2 linked regions of the Homo sapiens genome follow. The gene in region 1 interacts genetically with each later gene. Each region holds a gene or a part of one and is shown in the gene's direction. Other genes may lie near its edges.

Evidence for each region. A genetic interaction does not mean that the proteins touch.
Region 2: of VPS4A (region 1) and ATG10, changing one enhances a phenotype caused by changing the other (phenotypic enhancement), as found in Homo sapiens cells (one large-scale study listed by BioGRID).

Annotation. Positions count from the first base shown.
Region 1 is NC_000016.10:69,317,837-69,321,485, forward strand, and holds part of VPS4A (vacuolar protein sorting-associated protein 4A), read left to right. Parts: intron 1-813; coding exon 814-875; intron 876-986; coding exon 987-1,106; intron 1,107-1,550; coding exon 1,551-1,707; intron 1,708-2,304; coding exon 2,305-2,453; intron 2,454-2,851; coding exon 2,852-2,933; intron 2,934-3,214; coding exon 3,215-3,434; intron 3,435-3,649. UniProt on the Homo sapiens protein: Involved in late steps of the endosomal multivesicular bodies (MVB) pathway. Recognizes membrane-associated ESCRT-III assemblies and catalyzes their disassembly, possibly in combination with membrane fission.
Region 2 is NC_000005.10:82,167,402-82,171,050, forward strand, and holds part of ATG10 (ubiquitin-like-conjugating enzyme ATG10), read left to right. Parts: intron 1-3,649. UniProt on the Homo sapiens protein: E2-like enzyme involved in autophagy. Acts as an E2-like enzyme that catalyzes the conjugation of ATG12 to ATG5. ATG12 conjugation to ATG5 is required for autophagy. Likely serves as an ATG5-recognition molecule. Not involved in ATG12 conjugation to ATG3.

The DNA of each region.
Region 1 (3,649 bases):
AGCTACTCGGGAGGCTGACGCCAGAGAATTCAGAGAATTACTTGAACCCGGGAGGCGGAGATTGCAGTGAGCTGAGATGGAGATTGTGCCATCGCACTCCAACCTGGGCACCATCTCAAAAAAAAAAAAAAAAAAAAAAGAAGCTTCTGGCAGCTGCATTGTTTGACTGGCTTTTTTTTTTTTTTTTCCCCCAGACAGGGCTTCACTGTCTCCCAGGCTGGAGTGCAGTGGTGCGATCTTGGTTAACTGCAACCTCTGCCTCCCAAGTAGCTGGCACCATAGGTGCGTGCCACCATGCTTGGCTAATTTTGTGTTTTTTGTAGAGACAAGATCTCGCTGTTTCCCAGGCTGGTCTCAAACTCCTGGGCTCAAGCGATCCTCCCGCCTCAGCCTCCCAGAGTGCTGGGATTACAGGGGTGAGCCACCGCACCCAGCCTGGGCTGTGAGAGCCACTGCAGGTGGCCTCCCAGAGTATGAGGTGTGAGTCACCGCACCTGGCCTGGGCTGCTCTTTAAGTCCAGCTGAAGCACATTTCCCTTACGGCCTTCAGGAGAGGGCCGACCCGGATTCCCATCTGCTCCGCGAAGAAACAGGGCGGGTTATAGGAGTGTTTGCTGGGGGGGTCCTGAAGTGAGCTGCTGAGAGCATTGGCCCAAATGTCCCTGAAGTACTTGCTTGAGTCACACGGCACTGTTAAGCCAGGAAGGCTTCGTTCCTTAACCAGTGTGCAGGCAGCGGAGCCTGGACTTGCTGGGAGCACCTCTGTGCTCCAGGCTGAAGGGCCAGCTTGTGACTTTCCGTCTCCCTTCCCAGCAGTGACAGTGACAGTGAAGGGGATAATCCGGAGAAAAAGAAACTGCAAGAACAGCTGATGGGTAAGTGGCTCGCGGCCCTGTGGCAGCGGCAGGGGATGAGAGTGGGTCCGCTGCTGGGTTGGCTCATGCCCCTTGGCCGGGCCCGGGCCCGGGCCGGCCTCCCTCTCGCAGGTGCCGTCGTGATGGAGAAGCCCAACATACGGTGGAACGACGTGGCCGGGCTGGAGGGGGCCAAGGAGGCCCTCAAAGAAGCTGTCATTTTGCCAATCAAATTCCCACACTTGTTCACAGGTGAGAGTTGAGCCATTTCAAACCCCAATGTAAAAATTCCAGGCTTCCGCAGGGCTGGCACTCCGAGGCACCCGGGAGTCAGTGGCGACTCAGCCCCCGGGGCCTGCAGAGGGCCAGGCCTGGCTGCTCGCTGGTGTCCACAACACTGCTGTGGCTGGAGCTATGAGATGACGATCACGTCACAGGGTGGGGGCAGGATCAGGAAGCAGTGCCAGCCGGTGTCACTGTGCAAGGTCATGGGGTCATAGCAGGGGCACTGTGCAAGGTCATGGGGTCATAGCACAGGGCACAGCAGGGAATGTAGCTCCCATCACTTGTTTGCCAGTAGAGTCCGTTGTTTCACAGAATGCCCTGTTTTACTGTATGTATGGGACTCGAGACCCTCTGCTTTTCCTATTCCTTTCCCCAGTCAGGAGGCCTAACTTCTGTGGTTCTCTGTTGCAGGCAAGCGCACCCCCTGGCGGGGGATTCTGCTGTTCGGACCCCCTGGCACAGGGAAATCCTACCTGGCCAAAGCCGTGGCAACAGAGGCCAACAACTCCACCTTCTTCTCTGTGTCCTCCTCAGATCTGATGTCCAAGTGGCTGGGGGAGAGTGAAAAGTAAGTCGGCCACCAGGCCATGCTCTGCCAGCAGCCCCGGCACTGCTAGTGACCCAGCGGCCCACCCTGTGGAGTCACCTCTCAGAGGAGTGGTTTGGTTTTCAGGGAGGGTACCCAAGAGCAGTGTGTCGCTAGCTTATCGGCTGGGACACAGTCCCAACAAAGACAAGTGAAGGTGGAAGGGACCTGGGAGAGGTGAAGTGCTCCACAAGAGAAGGGAAAGGAAGTGAGGATATTTTTGGGGTCTGGGTTGCGGTCCCTGTTGGGGCAGTGTGTGGGGGACATGGTTCCCCACACTGACTCCTGTTTTGCGTGTGATGAGACGGGCTCGGAAGAAGGGGACTGACGTGTTGTAAGTGCAGAGCTAGCGCATGGGGCTCCTGGGATTGAGGCTCTGCGTTTGGGGCTGACACCAAGGTGTGCTCCTCCTCTTGGTGCAGTGTGGCCCGAGGGCTCCTCACCACCACGTTTTCCGCAATTCCGGCATGACCGTGGCCTGCGCCTCCCTGTGGGAAGGGTGAGAAGAGGGAAGTGCCGGGAGCCCAGGCGGGCACGGACGTGAACGTCTTGTCCTCACCCCCTTTCTCACCTTCACAGGCTGGTCAAGAACCTGTTTGAGCTGGCCAGGCAGCACAAGCCCTCCATCATCTTCATCGATGAGGTGGATTCCCTCTGCGGGTCCCGAAATGAAAATGAGAGTGAGGCCGCCCGGAGGATCAAAACGGAGTTCTTGGTCCAGATGCAGGGTGTGTGCCGGGCCCAGGGCCCCCTTGGTTCTTGTTGCACCTGAAGCCAACCCTGGGCTTTATTCTGAGCTGCGGCTGGATTTGGTTGTTCTCAGCCTCGGAGAGGCACTCCCCAGCTCCAGCCCCTCAGGGCACGGGTGGACTTCAATTCCCAAGAGGTGCCTGAGGCCTCTGCCTCACGGGCCACTCCACCCCTCCCATGGCAGGCAGTGCCATAGGTCTCACCTGGCACAGCCAGACCAAGATGTGGTTTAATCTCACTTGGGACCCTGCCAGTGGTGGGTGGCACAGGGATGGCTTCAATTGCTGACACACAAAGCCCCCGGGGTCTGTCCCCAGGTTTCAACTGACCCGTGCAGGTGTCCAGAGTCTGAGTCTTTGTCTCCCTTTCTCCACAGGGGTGGGGAATAACAATGATGGGACTCTGGTTCTTGGAGCCACAAACATCCCATGGGTGTTGGATTCGGCCATCAGGAGGAGGTGAGTCTTCCCCAGGAGAAGCCAGGGCTGGAGGCTTCCTCCCACCATGGTCACGGTCCGCCTGCTGCTGGCAGCCCGGGTGCAGCCTGGCCCCTTTTCCCTGGAGTCTTCCCGTCTGCCTGCCAAGCAGAGCCCTTTGTGAGGCTGGCTTGTTGAGGATGTGCCGCCAGCATCACTGGCCCATGAAATGCGTCCGTTTCACTCAAATCTTCGTGCCTCCCCTTCCGTGAATACCATTCCATCATCCGCTGTCAACTCCTGCCGTGTGCTGGGCTCTCTAGGTTTGAAAAACGAATTTATATCCCCTTGCCGGAGGAAGCTGCCCGCGCCCAGATGTTCCGGTTGCATCTCGGGAGCACTCCCCACAACCTCACGGATGCAAACATCCACGAGCTGGCCCGGAAGACGGAAGGCTACTCGGGCGCGGACATCAGCATCATCGTGCGGGACTCTCTCATGCAGCCCGTGAGGAAGGTGCAGTCGGCCACACACTTCAAAAAGGTGAGTGCCCGCGGCCACTGCTGAGAAAAATCTCATAGTAAGAGCGGGATGTTCGGTTTTTTTTTTCCCAGCTCCTGGTCCTGCTCCCCGGCTGCTCAGGTGACACAGTCTCTGAGGCCTCCTGGAGAGCCGAGGGCCAGTGCCATGGGGGCTGCACCCACTGTCCCCTCCCTGCAGCTCTTCTGGAGTGTGGCCATCTCAGGGTGTGTGAAAGC
Region 2 (3,649 bases), on another chromosome or scaffold:
TTATTCAGCTGTGGCACAGCATCAAGTATTTGTTAAGTGAAACGATAAAGAAGAATTTCTAGTCATTTAAAAAATACAGCCCAAGAATGGAAACATTGTGATGGTGCCTACTTCAACTGCTATGCCAGGTTTTGAAAGAGGAAGTAATTCTGTTGTCTCCAGGAGACCTAAGACCCAAACCATCTATGTATCTTTACTCTTTAGTCTGATACTTTTCAGAGACTATAGGAGTAGTGGACTTAGAAAAATAGAACATCCTGAGGACTCAAAAGTGGGTATCCAAACTAGCTGAAGCAGCTGTTCCACTTCTATAAACACGTATTTTTATTTAATTCTTGAAGGCAGACAGCCAAGTTGAGACAGCATTCTGCTTCTGCCTCTCATTTCTACTACTTTGGTGTACAGGAGCTCAGTTACCAAGTGGGCAACGTGGATTTAAGAGAAGAAATAAGCCCTTCCATCCCAATGTTCTGTTTTTCTCTAACTACTTTTGTCATTGTAGGTTTGGGAGAGGTGGTGGGACACAGTTAATACCCTTTGTCACTCAGGAGAGGGTGAGACATAATTGCACGTCTGTTGAGTAATAATAAATAGCCTACATTGGAATAGTGCCTTATAGTTTAGTAAATCCACTCCCACAAAGCATTGACATCTTCAAGTGCATGCTGTTTTTTTTTTCTTTTTTTCCCACTGTTTTTGAAGCATACCATATTAAAGAATTTTTTGTATCATGCCAAAGCCTTCTATCCATTCCCTACCATTCTTATTCCCTGACCTTTTTATGTCTCATTTTCCCTTTTGAGGGCTCAGCTTTGATCAAAAGCTAGTGGCAAATGTTACAAAGGTGGTAAAACCCTTAGGCACATACATAATGGCCTTTTGCCTTACCAGAGGCCTAGGCTTAAATATTTTCTCCTTACATTTAGCTAGAGATTTCTATATTTATTTCATCTTGAATTCTGATTCATCTCTTTCTTTTCATTTGTTCTCAGTCTCTATTGAAAAATGGACCAAGTGGTTCTTCTTATTTTCAAAACATTTAATTCTTTGGATGACATATGGGTTCTTCTTGGGAGCTGTTTTGACATATTTCTTTAATTAGTCAGCAGGGCTGCATTTGAATAGAGGAGGAATCTTTTCCTCCATTCAGCAAAGGAATGGCTGTCCTTTATGGAGACCATTCTATTATTGGCCCAGGAAAAAAGGGTATAGAATTAAAAATGTAGCCTAAATATTTCATGTGAAAGATTTGTCCACTTGTTGTAGGCCTGAAGGATGCTCATGGAGAAACAGGGCAAAAGAAATAATCAAAGAATAGTTCCTTCTCAAAGGCAGCATGAATCAAACTAAGATAAACGCCATGATAAAGAAAGAATAATGGAAAGTTTGGAATTAAAGCAGCATATAAATCATCAAGCAGGAAAAGGATTGTCTGTGGTTTGCAATAAGAGGACATCTTTGGAGTGCATAGAGGAGAATGACAGCAAAACAGGAAAGATGGGGGTTGGAGGAAGCCGAAGAATAAAAGTAGAATATCCATAGCTCTGTCCAACAACTTGTAGAGGACAGCCACAGGTTGGGTTTCTTGAAGAGGTTAGGAAAAGCACTGTAGAAGGGGAGGAGAGTGAGTGCCAAGCTATGGGGGCTGGAGGGCTGGAGAGAGCCCACCATATTTGGAGAACAGTGAAGGACCAGTTTGGAGTAGGGGCTAACTTAGGATGACTTACGGAAGAAATAGTTGAAAAGATATGTTGAGGTCAAATTATGGAAGAGATAATGGTTAGGAAGGGGTTGGAAGATATAAAGAAAAAGTGAAAGAGTTTGAGCAGAAGTGAATGAGACCAGAGGAAGGATGTCCTAGAAATTGTGCCTGAGTAAAACAGAAAGAAAAGGAATTGAAGGGTGAGAGTGAAATTTGGAAAAAAAAAAAAAAGGATTTGGCTTTTTCATTGTTGTTGTTATTAATTTTATAACAATTTAAAAACAATAACCTCTTAGAGAAAATGAAGAAAATGAGTTGGAAAGAACATATTTTCGGGGAAAGATGTATTATTGCAAGTACGGTAAGAGTTATGGTTAAGGCAGCTTGTTGAATAGGAAGAAAAATAGTGGATTAGAGAAGTATTTTAAGACTGGGGCAAAAACGACTCTAGTTAATTACTACAGTGAGCAGAAAATAGAAAATTATTTGACAGATAATTTAATTTAGAGTCTTAATTGTAAAGAATCTTTAAGAAAGTTTGTGTATTTATATTTATGTTACACATATGTTTATGTAGACAGTAAATCTAGCCAAGGTCATGATAATGAACCATAACATGAATTTTGGTGAATTAAAAAGAGATTCTAGGGATTGAAATGAATTTGAAGAGCAAACAGTGAAAGTTATTTTTAAGAATAATGAAAAGTTATCTAACTAATACAAATATATTCAAACTGAAAAGTCCAAATAACAGAGGAAATCTAGTGAGAATTATTTGTTGAGCCATGTAAATGTTTGAAATATTTTGGGGAATTAGGATAGAAGTCACATGCTGGGTTAGAACATATGATAGCAATAGAATCTCATTGAAAAATCAAGCCCTGTTTTGAAAATGTACTAAAGGAAAGGTGCTAAAGAAATGGGAAGTAAAACTACAGAGATAGCTAGTTAGCCAAAAGGTTTATTCTAAGCAGAATATTGCTTAGCCACATATACAAAAGGCAAGAGATTTTAGTTGGACCCAGAGGCTTGGGAGAGAAAATAACAAGGTAAGTACATTAATTTTATTAACCTGTAAGCGACTGTATTTTAGCTTTCTTAGGTGAATGTTTGTGCCATATGGAAAAAACATCTCTTTGCTTACTATTGGCACAATGAGCCCTGTTTGAAATACCTATTAAAATATACATGAGTGCCTACTGTGTGCACAACACAAATCTCATTAGCCTCTTTTTAAAATATGCTGAAACAAATCACTGCCTAACTTGTAACTCATGTATTGTTTTTCTGCTCCTTCAAAGTCATCAAAGCAGTATTCGAGTCTATATGTTAGGTGCTGTTTTGAGAAGGCAGAGACTGCATTCCATGAGAAGGAGACCAGGTTGGATGGTGGAAGTAAGGGTATTCAAAGTGCTGGTATAGAGTAATATAGTAGTAATAGGTCCATGATGTGGGGATAATGTTTGAGGAAAGCCAGGAATACAAATTACTGAGTATTAATCTCAAGAGTTTGGGATCAAAACCTCAGAATACTTTGGATAGGATTGAAAATAGAGTGTTGGCAGGGCGCGGTGGCTCACACCTGTAATCCCAGCACTTTGGGAGGCCGAGGCTGGCAGATCACCTGAGGTCAAGAGTTCGAGACCAGCCTGGCCAACATGGTGAAACCCCATCTCTACTAAAATACAAAAAAAAATAGCTAGGCATGGTAGCAAGCGCCTGTACTCCCAGCTACTTGGGAGGGTGGGGTGGAAAATCGCTTGAACCCTGGAGGCGGAGCTTGCAGTGAGCCGAGATCACGCCACTGCAGTGACAGAGCGAGACTCTGTCTCAGGGAAAAAAAAAAGAAAACAGAGTGTCTTCTGCTTTAGAACCAGCAGACCTTAGGCTGTAGATATCCAGCTGGTAGTATGGTTCTCAGATTTCTGGATCAATAGTGGTATCACA